2 separate regions of the Homo sapiens genome follow, and region 2 is linked to region 1. Evidence: fine-mapped expression QTL. Tissue or cell type: monocytes. Region 1 holds a variant in brackets; the other region holds the start of a gene. All regions are shown on one strand. Distances are between the middles of the regions. Region 1 overlaps SCAMP1 (secretory carrier membrane protein 1). Region 2 holds the start of SCAMP1 (secretory carrier membrane protein 1).

The links. PIP is the estimated chance that this variant, and not a neighbour inherited with it, causes the effect.
Region 2: SCAMP1 starts here. The variant in region 1 is fine-mapped to the expression of SCAMP1 in monocytes (Quach 2016, PIP 0.95).

The regions. Positions count from the first base shown.
Region 1 is chr5:78,478,065-78,486,516 of GRCh38, reverse strand. SCAMP1 (secretory carrier membrane protein 1) reads right to left here. Exons shown (of 9, transcript NM_004866.6): 9 at 5,778-8,452. LHFPL2 (LHFPL tetraspan subfamily member 2) reads left to right here. Exons shown (of 5, transcript NM_005779.3): 5 at 1-1,287. Among named protein-coding and RNA genes, the nearest start is that of SCAMP1, 120 kb to the right of the region's middle. The variant T/C (reference allele first, on the strand shown) is at 4,044.
Region 2 is chr5:78,355,769-78,364,220 of GRCh38, reverse strand. SCAMP1 (secretory carrier membrane protein 1) reads right to left here and starts at 3,604. Exons shown (of 9, transcript NM_004866.6): 1 at 3,493-3,604. The coding sequence starts at 3,549. It overlaps SCAMP1-AS1 (SCAMP1 antisense RNA 1), which reads left to right and starts at 3,680. Exons shown (of 2, transcript NR_105014.1): 1 at 3,680-4,007; 2 at 4,236-5,457. RefSeq lists enhancers at 2,845-2,964, 3,359-3,955, 3,875-4,034, 4,065-4,154, 3,956-4,552 and silencers at 3,055-3,174, 3,605-3,694.

The sequences.
Region 1 (8,452 bases):
ACCATCTAAAATCATGCTAGTCTAAACCATGCTCTTCCACACAGCTGTTTAAAAACCACTGGGTATGAGGAATATGCTAGAAAGAAATGTTAAAAATAGATTGTTGGCTCACACTTATTTTTCTAATAAATAGGACCATTATTACTACCAGGAAAGTCTTATTTATTTTGCCTGAAATTGGCTTAAAGAAAGTCTCATGACGGGATGGGATGGGCTGCGCTTCTCAATGAACTCTGAGGCAGAAATATTTGCCTTGGATTCTGTGGATTCTTTAAACCTGTGTGCTAATAATTCAAACAATGTTGCATTAATTGTATAAGGGTTTTTGTATAGTTTTCAAACATCTGTGGTGTAATGATCTTTGTTAAACATATATTCTGTAAAGTGCCATAGTCTTTTTTTATGTGTAGCATATTTAAAAATATATATGTATATTATACATACACAAGTTTGTGTGAAAGATGTGCAATAACAAAGGTGTATGTATGTTTTGTTGTTTTGTTTTGGAAACTGGACAGGAGTCAAAACAGGGATGTTTGTTTCTGTTTTGGCAAGGAGAGTTCCACATTTTTGCCTTCATGGCTTATTCAGTAACCCATAATTTTAATGCTACACAAATCTTATGTGAAGAAAAGACTGGTATGAAATCATTTTTTCCTGGGTCTAAAATAATCGCTAGTGTTATGTCAAAGTTAAGCCCGCACGCCAGGCCCAGTTAATGCTAGTCTTTCATGTGAAATGTGAAGCTGCCATGTTGCCTTTTCTCTTAGTAGGATAACTAGTAGCTGGTACATAATCACTGAGGAGCTATTTCTTAACATGCTTTTATAGACCATGCTAATGCTAGACCAGTATTTAAGGGCTAATCTCACACCTCCTTAGCTGTAAGAGTCTGGCTTAGAACAGACCTCTCTGTGCAATAACTTGTGGCCACTGGAAATCCCTGGGCCGGCATTTGTATTGGGGTTGCAATGACTCCCAAGGGCCAAAAGAGTTAAAGGCACGACTGGGATTTCTTCTGAGACTGTGGTGAAACTCCTTCCAAGGCTGAGGGGGTCAGTAGGTGCTCTGGAGGGACTCGGCACCACTTGATATTCAACAGCCACTTGAGCCAAATATAAAATTGTATTTACAGCTGATGGACTCAATTTGAGCCTTCAAACTTGTAGTTATCCTATTATATTGTAAACTAATACATTGTCTAGCATTGATTTGGTTCCTGTGCATATGTATTTTCACTATGTGCTCCCCTCCCCAGATCTTAATTAAACCAGATTTTGCAATTCATTCTTATTCTTTCAAGTCTGAGTATACTGGCTTCAATATGATGTGTATAATCTGATCAAGAAAATACCTATCAATCAGTCAACATTTATTTTAAACACTAACTTACATGTAATATTGATGAATGGAAAAAAGATATTCAGGTATTTTAAACTATCCCATTCACTAGTAACATATATGTCCCTACCCTGGGCTATCTTTCTTTAACGTCAAGTATGTATTTCTTCCTTGAAGAAGCATCAACACAATTGTAAATAGGAAAAAACATCTCAAGTATTGTAAACATATATTTTAAAGTAAAGCTATGAAATATGAAAATGCTCCGAAGTATTAAAAAGGGATTTTCAAACATAAATATGTAACAATGACAAGGGGAAAAGTTAACTGAAAGACACATCCTCCTCTTCCAACAACATCCCTAAAAATAAAAGCCAATGATACGGTGCCATTCCACATCCATGTTTCCTGAAGGTAATCCTGGCCATATAAACCCTCATCCAGAAGAGGTGGAATTCTAATTTATAAACTCAAGAATGACACTAAATGCCCTTCTCAACTCTCAACTCTCTGTATCCCATGAAGCATTTATTATTTCATACCAAAAAAAGGCAGTTTCTTCCCCTGATCTAGGGCCTATGACAGTTGAAATTAGATTCATGTTTTGGTTTCTAATAAAAGCTGACAAAGTTACCCATATCAGTTTAAAAAAACCACACACAGTTTTCCAAATAATCATGATTTGAATAACCCAAGAAAAATTAGAAAATTTCCATTGCTTTTTCAGCTGTTATTGTATTCCCCAAAAGTTAATCCACACAGAGAATGGACCCTGGTTGAATTTTAGCAGAAGCTGGGGAATCCTCCCATGTGCTTCCCCCGCTTCCCATCCTTAGTTGTTATCTAGCAATTCTGCTACTAGGTCCACTTTCCACACTGATCTTTCTGGAACATGCTGCATTCAAATTACACCTACACCCCCTTAAAGTTTTTGCTTAACCAAACAACCACTTACAACGGTCCTTACTAACGTGGATATTTTATGTGGATATTATTTCAGTAGTTTCAAACAATCTTTTTCAACTCTCAAACAATGAAGGGTAGGGTATCAAAGCAAACTTTACTCTTCAAAGCAGTAAGAACCAATAACTTTATTTCAGAGGCCCTCACTAGCAGCTGAGTCATTTGGCAGAGCCATCCCACTGCTCCCCCTACTACTATCTTCTTCCTTGCAACTTCCTCTCCTTACCCTGAACAGTTGTGCAAGATAAGTCTTGCAGACAAGAACTGCCAATTTTACTAAGGTACACAGGACACAGATAAAAGCACACAAAAAGAGGAAGTAGTGAAACCAAAACCACATGGGAAAGAAAAGTCAATCAAGTAACACATTGCTATTAGCAGCTTTTTAGCTTTTTCTAGCCAAACATCCTGAAAAATTGAACACCTACAGGTAGGCAGTCCAAATGCCTATGTTTAGGGGAAACCACTATGATTTTATTCACAAGAGACGAAAGCCTGAATTAAGGCAGTGATGGTAAAGGACAGTCAATGGGATGAATTCTATGTTAGGGAAAAAGAATGGGCAGGTGACTGATCAGAAGTGGAGAGGAAGGAGAGGAAAGAGTCTAGGATGACAGCCAGGTATTTAGCGTAGACACTGAGTGGAAGGTGATGTGATCACCAAGATGAAGACTCCAGAAGAAGCAGGGACAATGAAGGTGAGGAGGTTCAGCTTAGGCTGCCAATGTAGAAGTCCTGTGTGCAGCTAGGACTATACTAAGGAGAGAGAGAGATTTGGGAGTCATCAATACACCTGAGAGATGGTAAGTGTCCTTAGTTATTGTGCAACTTCTATGGGCAGATACTATGCTAAATACTTCATAAAATTCATTTATTCATCAAAATCCTATGAGATAGAAACTGTTACTATTGTTTTACAGATAACTGTCACTTAAATAACTGAGGTTAAATAATGTATCCCAGGTTAGAAAGCTAATAAGCGGAAAAGCCAAAGCTCAGATACATGTTTGACACCAAAGGCAACTCACTCAAACTGCTATGTTGTTTCCTTCTACCTGGAATGCACAAGGTGGGAAGGCAGCCAATGCAAACTCCTGGGCAATATCTCTACATTGTAAACACTTAGAATAACTTCCAAATAAAACTCCAAAAGGGCCTCACCATCACAACTGATGAAAACACTGCTTCTTCCTCCCTTTCAGAGAAAACACCTAGTGATTTTTCATAATTTTGAAGATGACACCATATGTCTCAATTTATCAATCATGATTTAGCTCAATCCTGAAAACAGACACAAGAAATTCATTAAGTATGTGACAGTGGGAAAATAAATGATAGGCTTTGACAGTTTTTATTGTTTTCTTAGTATAAATAATCTCTCATTCAGGGTAAGCAACTATTATAATCACATAAGAAGCATATTTAACCTAATAATAAGGATTTGTCCTCGACTAAAGTTTCTCCAAACACACAAACGCCAAAGACCCTTTAGTAAATTTACACTGCTGAAGAATGGGCAGCAGGTACTCACCTTTAGGTGGCAGGTGTTAGCATTTGGTCTGGAGACTTCAAAAATATATGTAAAAATTTTTTTTGTTGATTTTTTTTCTAGTATCTGTTGTCCCTAAAGGATGGACATGAATGACTGGAAATGTGGAAGGATGAAAGGGAAGACAACTGGAACGAGGCGGCATGGTGGGGCAGCCACGCTTGGCAGGAGTCAGGGGACCTGCCTGTTC[T/C]CATCATCCCTCTCCAGCCCTTCACCACCACCACTCACTGAGTGACCTTGGGGTAATTTCCTAGAACTCTACAAAAACAGAGCCAACAACAGAAATTATATCACAAGTTTGGTATGAAAATTAAGTGATGTATATAAAGCATTTAGTACAGAACACTGGTATATAATTAAGCCCACAATAAGCTATTATTAGAAAAAAACTAAGAAAATACTACCCACCCAGACTAATATCATTTTAAAATTACATTCTATGAAAGGTAACATAACTTGTCGAAACCAGTGTAATTTTACCTGGAGAGACTCAGTGGATTGGCTACCTGAGGCCACCATTTCTTTTTCCATCCTGTTATAACAGAGCATTCAGCTAATTATCTTTACCTTAGAGCTTTCAGGAAGCAGAAGATTTCTCAGTGGATGCAGGGTACTCAGTTACTCCTATTTAGCAAAAACAAAAACAAACAAACAAACCGGTAGCATTGGGTGAGCACATAAGCCATGTGAAACCAGAATGCTCAGAAAAGAAACCTGATTTGTCAAAATCTATTGGGATAAAAGACTTTTTAGAAAAGGAACATCCAATGCTGGCCAAGGATGTGAAGAAAGAGGCCTTTCCGTACATTGCTGATGGAGTTACATATGGATAAAATTTTTCTGGAGAGCAACTTGGCAAAGCACATGAAAGGTGCTTTAAAAACTATGCATAATACCCTTTAACTCAGCAATCTGTCCTAAAGAAAAAACAAAAGCCCGAGTCCCCAAATTTAGCAACAATATATTCCTTGATAAATTATTTATAACTTTAAAACCCTGAAAATCAGAACCTAAAGGAATAACAAGACTTTATGATACATACATATGATGTTAGCTATATAGCTATACTAAATGTTACAGAAATATATTCAGAGATATTAAAATCTTCAATACATATTTATATCATAACTGAAATAAGATAAACTGTTGTGTTAAGATCCTCCAGTTAAAAGTAATAAGAAACCAATTCAAGATAGTTGAGGGAGAAAAAGCGGTAAGATTATGAGGATAATGGGATAAGGGTGAGAAGTAGGGCTCCATAAAGGAAAAGGAAAGCCACTAAGATCTTTTCTATGTCATTCATTTTACATCTCCTGTTATGTCTGTTTCATTCTTCATTTTCATTGCAGACCAGCTTTCTTGGTGATTCCTTCCTCATGGCAGAAAATGGCTACCTCTTATGTTCCAATTCTGGAACAGTAGAGTTCTAGACATATCTACATTCAGAATAAAAAACTGATAAGCCAGGAATGAGTCCACTATGGCCAGATGACATCCAGTACCAATGTGGACTTTAAGGACCCAAAGAAGTGGGGCTTTTGAGGAGTAGGTAGACATCCCTAAAGGATGTACAAGGATGTACGGGGTCATCTCATTTTTAATATTAGGAAGTTGTCTTCCTAGAAAAATAGAAAGATATAAACCAGATTTTAATAGAAGTTATTCATGGATGTAAAATTATGAGAATTTTGGTTATTTCTTTTGCTTATATTTTCTATAATTTATACTGAAATATACATTAATTTTATAAATTAAAAAAGTTAATTTAAAAAACTAAACTATTGCGCCATTATGACATAAAGCTAAGTGAGGGGAAAATAAGGTTTTTAAAAATCCATATTGCTTATATCTCTTAACTAAACAAAACACATATGCATAGAAAAAGAATGGAAGACAATAAAATATTAGCAGAGGTACCCCAAGATGACAGAATTAAGGATTTATTTTTATTTTCTCATGTATCACTTTCTGAATTTTTAATTGTTCTACAACACATTATGTATTGCTTTTATACTAGAAAAAAAGTGTGAGGGATGCATAGGCCCAGTGGGTTCAGTTTTTGTGCAGGAGACTAGAATACTGTAGATACCACAGTGATCACCAGATAAAAGACACTGATTTTTGGTGTTTTCCCCCATCCCCAAAATACCTGAATACTACTACAAACTGCCAACAGTAACAACTACTACAATCATGATTTATCTTGAGAATCACTGGCATACAAAATATTAAAAGTTGTGGAGGAATTCTAGAATTACATTTAAGTAAGCACTGAAAATAACTAGAATTTAAAAATAAAACTTGTATGGTATTATTCTACAAACTAGAACTGTTTTAATGTATAGAAGATAATATTCACAGTAATCTTATATTACTAGGTGGATGATTAACTATTTTCTGCTCCTATTACAGAAAAGATTAAATGGCTTTTAGTGTTAGGAGGGTTTCAGCTACACCATCAGCCATGTCAAGCCCAGAAAGATATGAACTGAAAAATAAATCAGGATTTGGACAAACACAAAGTTTAACACTCACTACATTGCCACATGATAGTTCCCATGTTCCCTTGCCATTTGAAACACGGCCAGCACTAATGAAAATTCTTTTTTTTTTTTCTTGAGATGGAGTCTCGCTCTGTCGCCCAGGCTGGAGTGCAGTGGAGAGATCTCGGCTCACTGCAAGCTCCGCCTCCCAGGTTCACGTCATTCTCCTGCCTCAGCCTCCCAAGTAGCTGGGACTACAGGCGCCCGCCACCATGCTCAGCTAATTTTTTTTTTGTATTTTTAGTAGAGATGGGGTTTCACCATGTTAGCCAGGATGGTTTCGATCTCCTGACCTCGTGATCCGCCCACCTTGGCCTCCCAAAGTGCTGGGATTACAGGCGTGAGCCACCACACCTGGCCAAAATCCTATACATTAAATGTTTGTCTTACCCAAACCCCAAAGTTAAATTGTAAATATAAAACCCACAGCGGGGGTGAGAAAACTGGAGAACAGTCTTTCTCTATTTTCCTACAATCTTCAAATAAGAGGTATCTGCTTATATAAGACAGGTTAGTGGCAATACCTGGCTTAGAAAGTTTCTAGATTTATTTCTAGCTCTCTACATACTGTGATAAAGTCCTAAAGTTTAAAAATACCCACCAATATTACAGGCATGCTGCTTTATAAAATATGCCCTAAAATTCTAGCCAAAATACTTCACTTTCTGTAATACTTAATATGTGAGATAAAACTTTTTAGCTCAATAAAAAAGTATTTAAAACAACTCATGTTTTAAACACATTAGTCTACTCTAAATAAATGTATACTATTGTACTTTAAAATGTATCAAAGTAAGGTGTTTTCTATTTTTTAACCATCCTCAATTTTTTTAAAATTAACCAATCTTATTTCATCTCTAAAGGGCTTAATCACATGAAATGAACAAATTCCTCTAAACATTTTCCTTAAGGAAAAACTGAAAGGAGATATAGTGAAATGGTATATGACAGCCATGGTAACTCTAAGGTATACATAAGCAGGGGAAAAAATGCTCAAAATGTAACAAATTCTGTATATAAACAGTCATGCCAAACACAGATTTGTACCAATAAGGATACTGAATTAGATGTTAACAACAGTGTTTTCAGAAAAAGATACAGCAATGAGTAAAAAGCACTATGCTATTACAAATGATTTACAGAAACAACTAATTAACCTAACATAAATCCCCTTAAAATGCAAACCATACATAATCTTAACATGAATTACAGAATAAAATATTTTCCTAGTAAATTAGGTGTAAAAATCCAAACTTGCTTTTTTAAATATAACACCCAGAAAATAAAGAATACTGTTCCTTTTTTAACATGTATTTCTCAAAATAAGATTCACCATGAACATTATTTTAGATATTTTTACATCTTCTTTAGCTAACCAAGTGAAAAATCCAATATACACAAATAGGTACTTTCATCAGTACATAAAACAGCAATAGGTAGCAAGGATAGAAATCAGAATACAAGTTCAATTGAATAAATACAATACTAGTACAGAGACACCCATTTTTAACCCACAATGAAAAATCTGAGCCATGAATAGGTTTTCCATTTTGAATCTAACTTCTAGATGATCTGTATTTTGACCTTAAAGGGGCCAAAATATTTAATATGGGTGAAGCTCATGTTCCATTACCTGTAAAGGTCTAATGCAACAGAAAAATGGTCATTTTACATTGGTTAGAATTTTTAACTAGGTCTTTCATATTATTTTGTTTAGCACATGACAGACTTATACACATATTTTAAAAAATCAAACATGGAATTTCTATATACATCAAACCTTTAACAATGTCTGTCTCTGAATTGCTATTATAGTGTTCAAAATTATACAAACAAACATCCAGTAAACAGCATTTTATTTTATGACACTCTGTGTTAATACAATAAATATACAAAACTTCCAACCCACTGAAACATGCAACATTAGAGGGACACATGGAGGGCATTTCTGTAGAACCATGACAGTCACCATGATGGCAGCGCAGTATTAGTTACTGACAAAATATACAAACATCTCTAGATAAATAATCCAAGTCCCAAATTACAAATCACTGAG
Region 2 (8,452 bases), 120 kb after region 1:
TTGCTGACCTCTGCTGGTTATTAAACTCTCCCCTTTCATTCATTTTCCAAGCATATTTGTCTCACTGTTAGACTAATAGCCATAAGGACAGAGACACTTCTTCAGTATTTGTTGAATGAATAAACTCAACAGAAAACAAAGGACATACAGCAATTCTTCAATAATTACATGTTGACTATACAGAAAATATTTTTCCCTCTATAGCTTTAAAACCCCATTTTAACAGCTCAAGAGTGGATCCTCAGAAACTTCTATATAATTAATCACCTATTTTCTTTTCGATCACTACAGATTTCCAGTTATTCCAAGTTTCTTGATGCGCAATGAAAGCCATTCAAATTTCATAAAACCATTCACTAAGCCTAGGAAAACCACTAGAATATAAAGCAGGGGCTCAACAAAAAAAAATGAACTGAATCCAGCAAATAGCCTTACAAGAACCAATAAAATCAAGTAAACCACTATGGTTATATTATATAAGGAGAATAGACTCAAACTACTTTCATGATACGGCACAAACGAAGATGCTTGCAGAAGTATTCCTAACATAAAAGTGAAGGAAAAGAAATGCTAAAAAATGAAAAAGGCAATGGAAAACAAATAGGATTTAATGAAAAAGAAATTAGCATAGTTACCAAATGCGAAATATCATATACTTGAAAATAAGAGCTTTATCTTCAAATACTGCAAATAAAAACAGATTTGAAAAATGGGTCGGGCCCAGTGGTTCACGCCTGTAATCCCAGCACTTTGGGAGGCCAAGGCGGGTAGATCACGAGGTCAGGAGATCGAGACCATCCTGGCTAACACGGTGAAACCCCGTCTCTACTAAAAATACAAAAAATCAGCCGGTGGTGGCGGGCGCCTGTAGTCCCAGCTACTTGGGAGTCTGAGGCAGGAGAATGGTGTGAACCCAGGAGGCAGCGCTTGCAGTGAGCAGAGATCGCGCCACTGCACTCCAACCTGGGCGACAGAGGGAGACTCCGTCTCAAAAAAAAAAAGAAAGAAAGAAAGAAAGAAAAACGATCTGCTTGAACGCAGTGGCTCCCGCCCGTAATCCCAGCACTTTGGGAGACTGAGGCAGGTGGATCACGAGGTCAGGAGTTCAAGACCAGCCTGGCCAATACAATGAAACCCTGTCTCTACTAAAAATACAAAGAATTAGCCGGGTGTGGTGGCGGGCACCTGTAATACCAGCTACTAGGGAGGTTGAGGCAGGAGAATCACTTGAACACGGGAGGCAGAGGTTGTGGTGAGTTGAGATCACGCCATTGCACTCCAGCCGGGGCAACAGTGCAAGACTCCGTCTCAAAAAAAAAAAAAAAGTAAAAAAAGAAAAATGATCATAAAGTAACTCAAATGATTCTAGAAACATTTCAGATTTAAGTAGAGTATCAGAAATGTTATTTCAAAAATCACTTTTACATAAATATAAGCAGAAGTAAAAAGACAAAATATAGATATAAAACTATACTTTGTGAGGAGGAGGGGCAGGTGAACATAAATGGAAAAATAAAGGGTCAGATACACTGACAGTGCTATAACAGTCACCAAAAACAGAGAAAGATCATAAGCAGAAATATGTGTACAACCAAGTCTACTTTAGACCTAAATGATCTGTCCCTGATGCATTTTACAAACTTGAATAATCATTGTCCTGGATACATCCACTTATAAAAGAACAAAAAAGATTTATAACGTTATGCCACAATGAATATTTAAAACAACTCCTGGGTTTAGAATTACTACAGCAACTTTATGAATGTCAGAAGAGGAAAAGTGTCATGGCAATATCAGATGTCACAAAAGGACAGTCTGGGCTAAGATGAAGACAATGTTTTGCCCTAACAAGAGAGCCAGTTAATATGAAATGAACCATGAAATGGAATGACCAAGTAGAAAATACACTGCCAAATCGTCAGATGCTGAATAAACAGCGTCAGTGAATTATCTGAATTAGGAAAGGCTAAAAGGTTCTTGATGTTTTATCTTCAAAATATTTTAAAATAACACCCATTTAACAATTTATGAACGGTCTCTTTAGAAAGTCTACCATTTAAGAACTACCTGATTTTCCACAACATGGAAGCAAGTCCAATACTAATTGAAACAAAACTGCCAGGAAAAAAAAAAAAGTCTTAAAATGCAACCATGTCACTGAAAGGTACAGGCCAGTTGTACTGAATTTTAAGTGACATTAGGGACAATGAAACAGTGACTGAGTCTAATTCTACACTGCTACAAAGTGAGTCGAGTTGTCAATAATAATCAGGGTCATTTCATTAAAATAATCCTCCTTGGAATTATCAGGCATTTAATAATCAGAGCAGAAATAGTTTTCCTCTTCCAGGATTCTTAATGAAAGATAAAACCAGGAGTAAAAAGATGTAAACTCAACAAGCCAGAAGTGACACTTGTGTGACCACAAATTAGAGTTCCTGTTTTATTCTGTGTGACTGCAAATTAAAGTTACTACTGCACATGGCCGGGGGGATTGAGAAACAACTTCAACCAACAGTTGGAAACAAATTACACGTGCTAACAGTTACACTCATTAGGAAATTCAGAATACTTTCAAAGAGAGAGTTATTTAGATGTTGCATTCATTTAAACGCAGACGATGAATATCTCAGCCGCCTTCCTTTGCAGGATTCTGTGCCAAGCCCTTCCGAAGCCGGGGTTGATAAGGTCGACTCCAAGAAGAAAAGCAGCTCAAGTAGGAAATGGTATCCTCACATAGCCCAGAGAACCGGTGACGCACTAGGAGCTTGGAAAATATCCCATCGTTTACCTTGCTAGAAGCAGCTGGGTAGGGAAGAGGTCGTCCACGTGCACTATTGTTTTCCAGATATGTTTATTTTTAAGTTTTGCTTTGGTATCAATAACCTCAACCTCAACCTAACAGAAAGAGGGGGGATGGCAGCGCCACTGGTGGTATTTGGGTGCAACACAAGTTTAAAAAATAAAAACATAACCTTTTTTTTTTTAATTGCAGCATACTCGGTGCCCTCACCTCTCTCCTCCTCCACACCTCTGCCATCACCCCACGCAGCTCTCCGCCGCCGCCACCTCGGGTCCCCATGACAACCCCACCCCAGGGCGGGCCCCCCTCCGCCGACTCCCGGCCCTGCCAGCCACACTTGCTTGGCAAGGGGCGACTCTACCTGCCCTCGGCTTTCTCTCCTGAGAGGCGGGCCAGGACCCCTCCGGGCGCGCGGGCCCAGTCCCGGCTGCAGACACGACCCTCACCAGTCGGGGACGTGTGGAAGGGCGACCGGGCACGAGCTGAGGAGGTTCCACCCCCAAGCCCCAAAACCCAAAGGAGTGACACGGGGCCGGGGCGCGACCCCAAATGGAGGACGGCGGCCCCGCGCCCCTCTCTGGGCTGCTAAGGGGAGCCGAGGGGCAGACGCAGTGGGCGCGAAGGAACTCGTCCGTTTTCACAAACAACGACGCGTCGCGGCGGCAGGAGATGCTGGGGCCGAAGCTCACCTTGAAGGGATTGTTGAGATCCGGGTCGGCAAACGGGTTACTGTCGAAATCCGACATCTCTCTGGCTCTCGGCGTCACCCACCCGACCCAGGCGCAGAGAGAGAGACGAGGCGAGGCCGCCGCCCCCCTGCGCGCTCACGTCGCCGCCGCCGAGCAGATCCGGGTGCAGCTCGCGGGCCACCCAGCCGGCCGCGCCACTGAGCATGCCCGGTGCGGCGGGCTCCTGGCCGCGGCGCAGCTCGCGTTCGCCATCCCGTTCCTCCGGGCCCGGATCCCACGCTCCGGGCTTTAGCTGCGACCGAGTAGGCAGTCGGGGCGAAGGAAACGGGAACTGAAAGCGATGAAAAGCGTTCCACACGCCACGAGCCCGCGGGATCCTCGGAGAGTATGGAACCCTTCCCCTCCGCTCTCAGCCGGAGGCCAGCTGCGTCCAGCCGGGCTCGGTCTTCTGAACACCGATTTCAAATCAGGTCCTCGGGGCCCAGCGTCACTTAGGGAAGTGGTGGCATTTTGTGGTAAGGACGCACACTTGTCAGGTTGGGGGAGGCAGCCTGAGTCGTGGGCCGCGCACCCCGGGAGCAGTGCCGTTAGACCGTGGGACGCGGGCACTGGAGAGGCTACTGCACCGCCCTCCGCAAATTACCTCCCCGGGGCGGGGGCGCGGCCGCTGCTAAGGATTTTTGCATACCCCTGACCCCACCTGAGAATCCCGGCCTCCCATCTTCCGGTCTCTCTGACTCTAGGTTGCTGCTAAATCACGGAGAGCAGCCTTGGCGCTGCCGGTCCCAACTTGATCCAAGGAGCCTTGAGAAGGAGATGAGATTCAGTACCAGGGGCCGGCCGTGGCTCCCATCCTCCGGAATCTGCAAAATGGCTACTTCTTCAGAAATAATGGGGAGAGGGATGGCAAGAGGCCAGAGATCAAGGCCCTCGAGTATTAACTTGAGCATTTGGGCACAAAATAGACACTTTTGGATTTTCCCGTCTTTTCCAACACCAAGGATGAGATTATCAAAAGATGTGTTAAATTAATTTGTACCGGCCGGGCGCGGTGGCTTACGCCTGTAATCCCAACACTTTGGGAGGCCGAGGCGGGCGAATCACAAGGTCATGAGTTCGAAACCAGCCTGGCCAATATGGTGAAACCCCCGTCTCTACTAAAAATACAGAAATTAGCCGGGAGTGGTGGCGTACGCCTGTAGTCCCAGCTACTCTGGAGGCTAAGGCAGGAGAATCGCTTGAATCCGGGAGGTGGAGGTCGCAGTGAGCCGAGACCGGGCCACTGCACTCCAGCCTGGGAGACAGAGCGAGACTCTGTCTCAAGAAAAAAAAAAAATCAATTTGTACCATTCCTTGCCCCACCCTGCCGAACTTATTGAAAGAGCATCGCTTTCCTCACTTTTCTCCTCTAACAGAAAAGCACTTAGATGAAGCTACAGGGAGCCAGAATTCTTTTGACTTGGTGGGTACCGGAGGATTGGAAGAATCTAGATTGAGTATTCCTTGGCCTTTGGGGAGCTTGCTCTATGCAAAGTCACCCAGGAAATGATACTCCCCCCACTGTGAAACACTAGCTAGAGATGATAGACAAAAAGCACATTTGTTGTAATCTCCCTTTGACGGGATTCAGGTTGGGATAGATGTCGAAGCAGCTGCTTCTAGGTAGTCAACGAAGATGTCAACTAGTAAATGACAACAGACAAGGATGAGCACAGCAGAGCTGTACGATTCTAGATATCAAAAAGAGCAAGCAGTCTGTTGTACTCACCATCGCATCCTCAGCAGCTGCCCAGTGCCCGGTTTTAACTTAGTGCTCAGTGTATGTGTCAGGTTTGAATCCCAATTCTGATACTACCTGTGCTACTCTCTTCACCTCTCTGAGTCTGTAAAGGATTATTTAAGAATTAAATGAAACAACATACAGAAAAGTGTCCTGCATGTATATTTAGTGCCTAACAAATATTGGTTGAACGTCGAAAGTGGCAAGGAGGCTCAGTATGTTCTTATACGCTTTGCCTCCCTTCTCCTGAGCAAGCATGTCCTTGCCCAGCTCATCTGCTTCTCTCACCACTTTTGCCCTCACTCCCTCCACCTGTCCTCCAAATGACTCAAAATAATCTGCACTATTTATTATGCATCTACTATGTTCCAAGACAATGAGGGTCAGCTGAGCCCGCATTGCAGGATGGAAATTTCCAACTATGTTCTGTTTACAGCTAATGATATTTGCACCTAATGCAAAGGTTTACAGACTTTACTGTTATAGAATCATTTGGAATACCTGTTGAAGATGCAGACACCCACCTTACCATACCTCCTATTGCTAAGATTACGCTTGAAAGGATCTGAGGTAGGGGCTCTGGATCTGCATTTTTTATTTTTTACATCTCTATACATTATTTTACATAAATGTATAAATGGAGTCATGACATACATATTGAATTTTTCACTTACAAAAATTTTTATTCCGTGTATTCCCTCTTCTCTTCCCCTACATTAACAACCTAGTACATTTCTTTAAATATTCTTGTAATAGTGTATATCTGCACTTACATAAAATAACATGTAATTGTATAAAAACAATACATATTCATGCAGATATGCATACACTCTAATACTGAGCTTTGGCATTGTCTTGAAAAAGTTAGATCATATGTATATTTTTCTGCAGCTGTTTTTCTCAATACGTATGGCAGAATTTCTCAGCAAGATGTGCATTGTCAGAGAGACAGTCTTAAGGTTTCTTCCCCTAGTATGCCACATAAATATTATCACTTTTTATGTGTAGCATGCCTATAGAGTGAAAAGGGAAGCATGGCCTAATGGAAACCATATATCTGATTCATTATTCTTAACAACTGCAAAAATCAGCATATGTAAAGGATCTCAGGTGATTTTTTTTTTTTTTTTTTTTGAGACCGAGTCTTACTCTGTCACCCAGGCTGGAGTGCAGTGGCACAATCGTGGCTCACTACAACCTCCACCTCCCTTGTTTAAGCAATTCTCCTGCCTCAGCCTCCCGAGTAGCTGGGATTACAGGCATGCACCACCACACCCGGCTAATTTTTGTATTTTTAGTAGAGATAGGGTTTCACTTTGTTTGCCAGGCTGGTCTCGAACTCCTGACCTCAAATGATCCAGGCCACCTCTGCCTCCCAAAGTGCTGGGATTACAGGCATGAGCCACCATGCTTGGCCAACCTGAGATGACTTTGGTGGTGGCTGATCACACTTTTGGGAACACTGATATGAGGACATGCAGACATATGGTCCATGGGTGAGGGTCTTAATCTGTTTGTGTTGCTATAAAGGAATACGGGAGGCTGGATAATGTATGAAGAAAAGAGGATTATTTGACTCATGGTTCTGCAGGCTGTCAGCTTCAGATGAGGGCCTTATGCTGCTTCCACTCATGCAGAAGGCAAAGGGGAGACTTCGTGCAGAGATCACATGGCTACAGTGCAAGATGGGGCATCAGGGGAGAGAAAGGGAGAAGCTGACTCTCGGTTCTTTTGAACAACCTGTTCTCAAGGATGAGAACTCACTCTCAGGAGAATAGCACCAAGCCATTTGTGAGGAATTCATCCATATGGCCCAAACACCTCCCACCAGGCCCCAACTCCAGCACTGGGACTCATATTTCAACATGACACTTTGCAGGTCCAAAGCCATACCCAAACCATAGCAGGGAGCTTATTAATTCATTAGCCTCCATGAAATTTAGAATTATAGAATGTGCGAGCTGAGAAGGAACCTCAGCCTCTCTCATGATTGAAGAAACTGGAGTTTGGACAGGTTAAGTAATTTGTCTCAGACACCAAGGAAGTGAATGGGGAAACAGGGAACAGAACTCAGGTCTCTTGACTAATGTTTTAGACATTAAATAAATAGGTTATTAAATGAATAGAATTATTCTATATGAATAATTTCATATAGAAGGAAGAAATGCTATGTGCAAGGTAGAGAGAAATTATACAAGAAGCCTCATTTGGTGCAGGAGTTCATTTTACGGAAGGTACCTCCTAAATTTGGTAGAACAAAGACTCAAAACCAGTCTATGCCCTCTCTCCTGCAAACCAACCGTTTGATCTTGAACATATCAACTCACCTTTCTAACCAGAGTTTCTACTCTAGTACATCATTCAAGTATTTCTTGAGCAACTAAAACAGTGATGTTGTGGATAAAGCAGTAAACCAGGTATAAAGCGTAAGGCCTGCTCCAGAAAACTTCCTAAAAGGCCTAGAACATGGCTAAAGGATATCTCAGATCCTTTGGACAGTTCTAACGTTCTATTAATCTGGGACAGTGGCTCACTCCTCCCTAACCCTGTTTCTTTTCCCCTCAGAGTGTGCCTCCCATCATCATCATGCTGCTTCTCCTCAGACTGACACTTTTAATTGGTGAACCTATTGAGCAGGGTCTAGAGTCTGAATTCCTTGTTTTCTAAACTGCCTAGCTTATAGCTGGGGAATGCTAGGAAAATGCCAAGTTAGATATTTACGTTTCTTGCCTCAAAAGGTTCACTGGATTCTGGGTTCACTGATGGATTAGAACTGAAATCCATCATCTCTTACAGTGGGTCTAGTCTCCAGATTTGCTGCTGTGTCTGCTGATACCCTCGACGCCCCAGCACCAGCCTATCTGGCTCCCTATTCTGCCACTGGCTACATTTTCAGGCAATAACAGAGGAGGTGCAGGCATTGTGTGGTAGGCCAAATAATCCTCCCCTCCCCCAAAGATGTCCATGCTATAATCCCTAGAATCTGTAAATATGTTACCTTACATGGCAAAAGAGACTTTGCAGGTGTAATTAAGGTTAAGAACCTTGAGAGGAGGGGATTATCCTGGATTATTCAAGTAGGCCCAATGTAATCACGAGTCCTTGAAAGTGGAAGAGGAAAGCAGAAGAGTTGCTGACTTTGATGATTGAGGAAGGGGTTCTTAAACTAGGGCATGTGAG